2 separate regions of the Homo sapiens genome follow, and region 2 is reported to be linked to region 1. The links are microRNA targets in miRTarBase. Many come from high-throughput screens and were not tested one by one. Region 1 holds a microRNA gene; the other region holds the end of a gene's coding sequence.

Region 1 (3,149 bases):
TTAGCATAGGCAGAAGGCCTCCAGCCAGGCTAGGTGATCGCGAGAAGATCGCAGTGTTAACACCTGTCTAAAGGAAACCAGCTAGCCGTTAGTAGTGCTCAAATTGCAAAAGAAAATCTTGTTATCAAAGAAAAACTTACAGAGAGGGTATAATATTATTTCTGCTATCTCTGTTAAAAGGACCAGTTGTTAATCACTCAAAAGCATTTGCCCATTAAATGAATTAGCCATTTACTTATGAAGAACCATCAGAAGTCAGAATATCCCTTTGTCACTTGACAAGTTTTATATTCTGACTTTGAGAGGGAGGTGGTTTTGTTTGAGTATTTCATCTTTGTTGACAGCAGACTGTCAGAATAACAACTTTGCAAGTATATTATGCATAGTCCCTATTTGACTTAAGCAGGATACAGATTGAAAAGTTCAAAGAAGTCTGGGGAGTTTGTCTTACCCAGCCCTCTTCACCGGTTGATTGGATGTGGTTATACGGCCTCACTGTGGTCTGGCAAGACCCTGGAAACCCAGGGCAGGGGTCTTTGAAGACTGAAGGTGGTCATGGTTATTAACCCAGTGATAAATGAACATCAGTGCATACTTCCGAGGCTTCCTCTCATCGTACTCTTCTTGGAGAGCAGATCTTTTTTCTTTTGATGTCTCCATGTTTAAAACAATAGTGAGAGTGCAGGCATACAAGCAAGCATGCTTTGGGGAATGAAGAAAGGAGGTATTCCATGGAGTTGCTTCAACCCCTGGTTCTCCTCAGTCCTGAAAACCTGCTTTGCTAATTCTCATGGCCACACAAAACTGCTAGCTTTGACATCAAGCAAACCGGTTGACAGAATTGGAAAGGACGAATCTGATGGCTGCTAGTCCCCCAGCAGGGCTGCTGCTAAGCCACAATATGCTTTTGTGTGAATTAGAAAAAGTACCCTTTGCGTGGGGCAGCTTCCCTGTGCTTGAGGAGCAGAGCCAGATTCAGCCCCTCTCAGCCTGTAGCTGGACACCCTGTGCTCAAAACCTTATGTGGCCTGTGCGCACTGGGAGAGCATTCCACACAGATGGGCCTTCCCTGAACTTTTAAGAACTTCTGAGGCTAAGAAGGGCATAGCAGGAATGGGAGAGTCACACAATGGTTCAAGGAGGGTATCGGGACATCCTGTCAATGTCTGAAGAGGCCATTATGTGTGACAGCAAATCTTTTGGTCCAGCCACTCTCCCAAAATGTGAGATCATTAGTTGCCTAATGTGGTGGTTCTCAACCAGGGGAGATTTTTTCCCTCAGGGAACATTTAGCAATGTCTGGAGACATTTTTCATGGTCATATGTGGGGTTGGGGGTATGCTACTGGCATCTGGGAAGTAGAGGGCAGGGATACTGCTAAGTATCCTACAATGCCCAGGACAACTTCCACAGCAAAGGATCATGTGGGCCCAAGGGTCAACAGTGCCAAGGTTGAGAAACCCTGGCCTAATGCAACCTTAGCTGTCTTCTTCTCTGTAGGTTGCTCTGATCCACTTGCAAAACGTTTCCTAATCCTTTTAAGATGACCTACCCACCAGGTCTTGCCTTCTTCCCTTTTATGATCTTTAACAATATTGACTAAATGGAAATATTGCATTATTTATTATTTCTGTCAGGATTTAGATGATGTGCCGCTTTTCCCCTTATGGTAAGAAAGAAATCTCCCTACCTCCACTAAATGCTTAACCTTCTAGATTGAAGATTCGTGATTGTGACTCTTCCTGAGCCTCATGCCCTCCCCTTTTGCAGAAGGCTCCTGACCTGTAATAATTTGAGATTTTGCTGAGGCAGAGGTCTGATCACATCAGCTGCCAGGCTGGTACGTGGGAGGGAGGTGCTTTGCCAGGAAATGGGCCTAGCTGACCACGCACTGAAGAGCCACACCATCATATGGTATTGTCATTCTCCCCCTGGGTACAGTGGCCTTGCTGAAATGTAACAGTTGCTTCCTCGTTACCAAAAAGAAGATTAACTGTTAGTGAAGAAATAAGAGTGACGTGCTTTCCGTGGGAAAATAAAACTTTTATTGGTAAAACTGTATATTGCGCTGGCATTTGCTGCCTCAGTACATTTCCTACTATTCACTGTTCTGGTTCGCACCAGCACCATGAGGAGCATACTGGAAGCTTTCTGAGTTCTTAGGGAGAAAGGTGCTATTTCAGGTAAAAGGATTTAAATTGCCTTATCTAATGGACACATACTTTATGTCTGCATTTTGTCAGGAGCTGTGAATTATGCATTGGCCCTTTCAGCTACATTCACGTGCATAGAAAATAACATTGTCAGACGTGTCATCCCCAGATACAATGGACAATATGCTATTATAATCGTATGGCATTGTCCTTGCTGTTTGGAGATAATACTGCTGACTTTATTCCTCTCATACATGTGAATGTGGCTGTAGGGAGCACGTGACATCTGTGGCTTTTACATGTATTAGCTTATCCCTTGCCACTTGAAGAGATTGCCATTAGTGAGCTGGCCTTGTGGGGTCATGCTAAGTGCCATGTTTTGGATCACAGTTGTTATCGGACCTTAGTTTTAGATCCAGTAGGGAATTAGTAATATTATCTTGATGGCCTGAAGATGCAGTGGGTTACTTAGTCAGCTTCCCAGAGCAGATGTGCTAAAGAAAGGGTAAGCTGAGGCGTTCCTACTCAGATCAGCTTTGGGAGTAAGAAGGCAATTGGGTACCAAGCCTGGGAATGGCTGCTTCTATGTTAGTGCATTACCCAAGTAAGCAATAATAATATCACTTGTATTGATCTTTACAGTTGCCAAGTGTTTCACATACATCCTTCCATTTAACCTTCACTTACCGATGAGGTAAGTCTTCTCATTATACCCATTGTACAAATAAGGGAACTGAGGCTGAAAGAATCATTTTTCAAAGATTTCACTGCTGAACCATCACAGAGCCTGCCCTACTCTGTTTTTCCTTTAGAGATCAGTTATTTCTTTTGGGGGCCTAAGTTGAAACAATATAAATGAATTCAGTTTTGTTTATGGTTCAGAAAAATAAATGGCTATTTGTTGTTATTTTACTTGTTCAGTATAACTACTAATTCAGAATAGCTAAGAAAACTGAGTGATTATCTTGTATATTCCTACATTCTGTCTATTTTGGT
Region 2 (3,000 bases), not on the chromosome of region 1:
TTCTAGTGGAAAAGCCGAGTCTATGTGGGGTCCCTCAAACAGGCTCTGTAACTGACCAGGCTACTCCCATGTTCTGTGGGCACCTGGGAGTCTAGTCAGGATTTAAGCAGAGTTCCTGCCATGAGAGCTGGAACCGGGCTTTCCGTGCAGGGCAGATGAGATTGTTTTGAACCCTGCTAGACTGTCTTGGGGCCAGCAACCTTGTTTTCTGGGATGACTTCCTTGGGACATATTCCCAAGAGCAAGGTCAAAGCATAAAACATCTTTGAGTCTCTTGTCTTTTTGTTTTTGAGACAGAGTCTCACTCTGTTGCCCAGGCTGGAGTGCAAGGGCACGATCTCAGCTTACTGCAAACTCCACTTCCTGGGTTCAAGCGATTCTCCTGCCTCAGCCTCCTGAGTAGCTGGGATTACAGGTGCCCCCCGCCCCCACACCATGCCTGGCTTAATTTTCGTATTTTTAGTAGAGATGGGGTTTTACCATGCTGGCCAGGCTGGTCTCGAACTCCTGACCTCAAGTGATCCACCTGCCTCAGCCTCCCAAAGTGCTGGGTTTACAAGCGTGAGCCACACACCTGGCCTAGTGGGTCCCCCAGTCTTCCCTGGGCCATGGCTTAGTGCCAGCCCCAGACCACTTCTTCCTGGTGCACCTCCAGGCCAGGGGGGCTTCCCAGAGGAAGGGACTTGTGGGTCTTGGAGGCTGGACAAGGACTGTAGGAATCCAGGAGTAGCCAGGGCCCTTGTCCTCTCCCCTCCCTCTTCTCCAGGCAAGAAAAGCTGAGAACAGAAAGGTTTAGTGCTGACTTGGGTGCTTGGGGTGCGATGTGTGGGGAGAGGGGGAGTCAGCCTCTCTCCTCAAGCACCCACTCTGGGGTGAGGGGTACAGGGCTGAAGGACAGACTCCAAGTGGCGAGGGAGGGAGACCCCACGCCGTGGGCCAGGCCTCTACATCATCCACCCTGGCAGACATCGCAAAGGGGTCAAAGCACTCGCTGTAGACATGGGCTCAGTCTCTGCCCCCTGCCCACCCTCAGCGATGACTACCTGTCCCTGGAGGGTTCCCGCTGGCCACCAGCCATCAGGCAGGCCACACGCTGGAAGTACACGCCCATGGGACGGGACGCAGCCGGCCAGCTGTGGTACACAGGCCTGACCAACTCGGACGCCTGGGAAGCCTGGTACAACCTGCCACGGGCCCCGGCCAGCCCCTTCCGCGAGGCCTACAACCGCTGGCACAGCTGCTACCAACACCGTGAGTGCAGCATGCCATCGGGTGAGTGCCCCCCCCCCCGCCCTGGGCAGCGGGCCTGCCAGAGGGGGACAGGAATGACCGCCAGCCCCCGCCCCACCGCAGCCTACACCCAGCACCTGCGGGAGACCGCCTGGCATGACCCCATCGTCCCTGCCCAGTACCAGGCCCCCAGCACCCGGTGGGGGAGCGCGCTGTGGAAAGACAGGCCAATCCGGGGCAAGGAATACGGTGAGGCTAGGTGCAGGGTGGGTCCTTGGGAGGCCAGGGGGACAAGGCCACCTAGGCCAGGGTGAAACTGCCCGGGGCGATCCAGGAGCCCCTTGCTGGCCAACGGCGAGGAGGTGGGGGCACATGGTGACCCGAGTCCCACCTACAGTGCTCAACAGGAACCGGTACGGGGTGGAGCCACTGTGGAGGGCATCAGACTACGTGCCCTCCCTGTCGGCACCCCAGCGCCCGCCCGGCACCACCCAGAACTACCGGGAGTGGGTCCTGGAACCATACTGCCCCTCCACCTGCCAGCGGTCCCCGCCTTCCCTCACACCCACTCCCCGATAAAGGCATGCTACCAGGATGCACCCACTGTCTCTGCACCCAGATGAGGGGGCACTAACCTAGTCCCAGGGGACCAGAGGCTCGGGACAGAGGCAGACACTGGGCTCGCTGGCCGCCCACAACCAGGGCAGGGCTGAGATGCCCAGGCTACCCCTGCCCAGAGCCCCCCCGCAGGCAGACAGGAGCCAGGCTGCCGTCATCTCTTTATTTGCTGCCAGCAGAGTCCACCAAGCCTGCCGGGCAGCCCTGCTGCCCACCACGGTGGGGTCCAGGCCCAGCCCACCACCCCGTGGCTGTCTCCTCCAGGCTCCAGCCGTCCTGAGGGGGCCCTGGCAGTGTCTGGAGACCCCCAGGCTGGAGGTGAGGGGTGAACTGGACTGAGCTCAGGGTTAGGGTTCCCCCAGACCCTTCTGGGATTCCTACTTCCTGTTCCCTGCCGAGAGGGGCACCCCAAATCCTCCAGAGGGCTGGGATGGATTAGAGTTGAGAATGGGACACCCTCAAAACCCAGGGGGTCCTTGCAAGTCCCTGGCGGGCATCCCTGCTGCCCTCACCCGACCCCACCCCCGGGAGCTGGGTGAGGATGGAGGGTGGGGGTCCAGAGAAGAGTGAGGGGCAGTGGGGGCTTTTCCCCAAGGCCCTGGGGGGCATCCTCGTGCGTCCCCACAGTTCCCTTGCACAGGTGCAGGAGGCTGTCAGGAGTCAGGGCCGGGCATCACGGTCCCCTGCAAGGGAGGGGTGGAAATGGCATTAGAGAGTGTGGGTCAGTGTCTGGGGAGGGAGGGGTGGGCCAGGACTCACAGCGTCGCAGGCGGGTCGGCCACAGCAGGAGGCTACAGAGACACAGGGCAGCGGCCACGCCCACGCCGCCCGTCACAGCCACCATCGCCCAGTGGTAAAAGCTCACGCAGGCCCTGCAGCAGAGCTCTGAGCTGTGGGAGGAGGCGGGGGATGAGTAGGCACCGCGGGTACCACCCCCCCGCCACCCAAGCTGAACCTGTGCCTCCCCTCACCCCCGACAGCGGCTCCGTCCTGTCCAATCCAGGAGCTGGGGGCCCTGCCACTCCCTCCCTCCTGTCCCACACCCAACAGCTCGGCCAGTCCTGTGGGCCCTGCTTCCAGCATCCATGCCAAATCCACCATGTCTCCCCTTCCCTGTCTCCTCATGGTCCAGCCCCAGCATGGCCCGCCTGC

The links. The annotated mature microRNA hsa-miR-2355-5p reads AUCCCCAGAUACAAUGGACAA and lies in region 1 at 2,315-2,335, shown strand. An mRNA with a match to its seed (bases 2 to 7 or 8) in the 3' UTR can be bound and repressed. Matches are read on the target gene's strand: a 7mer-m8 pairs with bases 2 to 8, a 7mer-A1 pairs with bases 2 to 7 and ends in A, and an 8mer does both.
Region 2: miRTarBase lists MFSD12 as a target of hsa-miR-2355-5p. Seed matches in the 3' UTR shown: 7mer-A1 at 2,435-2,441.

The regions. Positions count from the first base shown.
Region 1 is chr2:207,109,229-207,112,377 of GRCh38, reverse strand. MIR2355 (microRNA 2355) reads left to right here and starts at 2,305; the gene lies at 2,305-2,391. All of the region lies in intron 2 of KLF7 (KLF transcription factor 7), which reads left to right.
Region 2 is chr19:3,542,202-3,545,201 of GRCh38, forward strand. It overlaps MFSD12 (major facilitator superfamily domain containing 12), which reads right to left. Exons shown (of 10, transcript NM_174983.5): 9 at 2,608-2,738; 10 at 1,998-2,531. The coding sequence ends at 2,509. It overlaps TEKTIP1 (tektin bundle interacting protein 1), which reads left to right. Exons shown (of 4, transcript NM_001135580.2): 2 at 1,034-1,272; 3 at 1,354-1,479; 4 at 1,628-1,829. The coding sequence ends at 1,809. Among named protein-coding and RNA genes, the nearest start is that of TEKTIP1, 4.5 kb to the left of the region's middle. RefSeq lists an enhancer at 712-856 and a cis regulatory region at 784.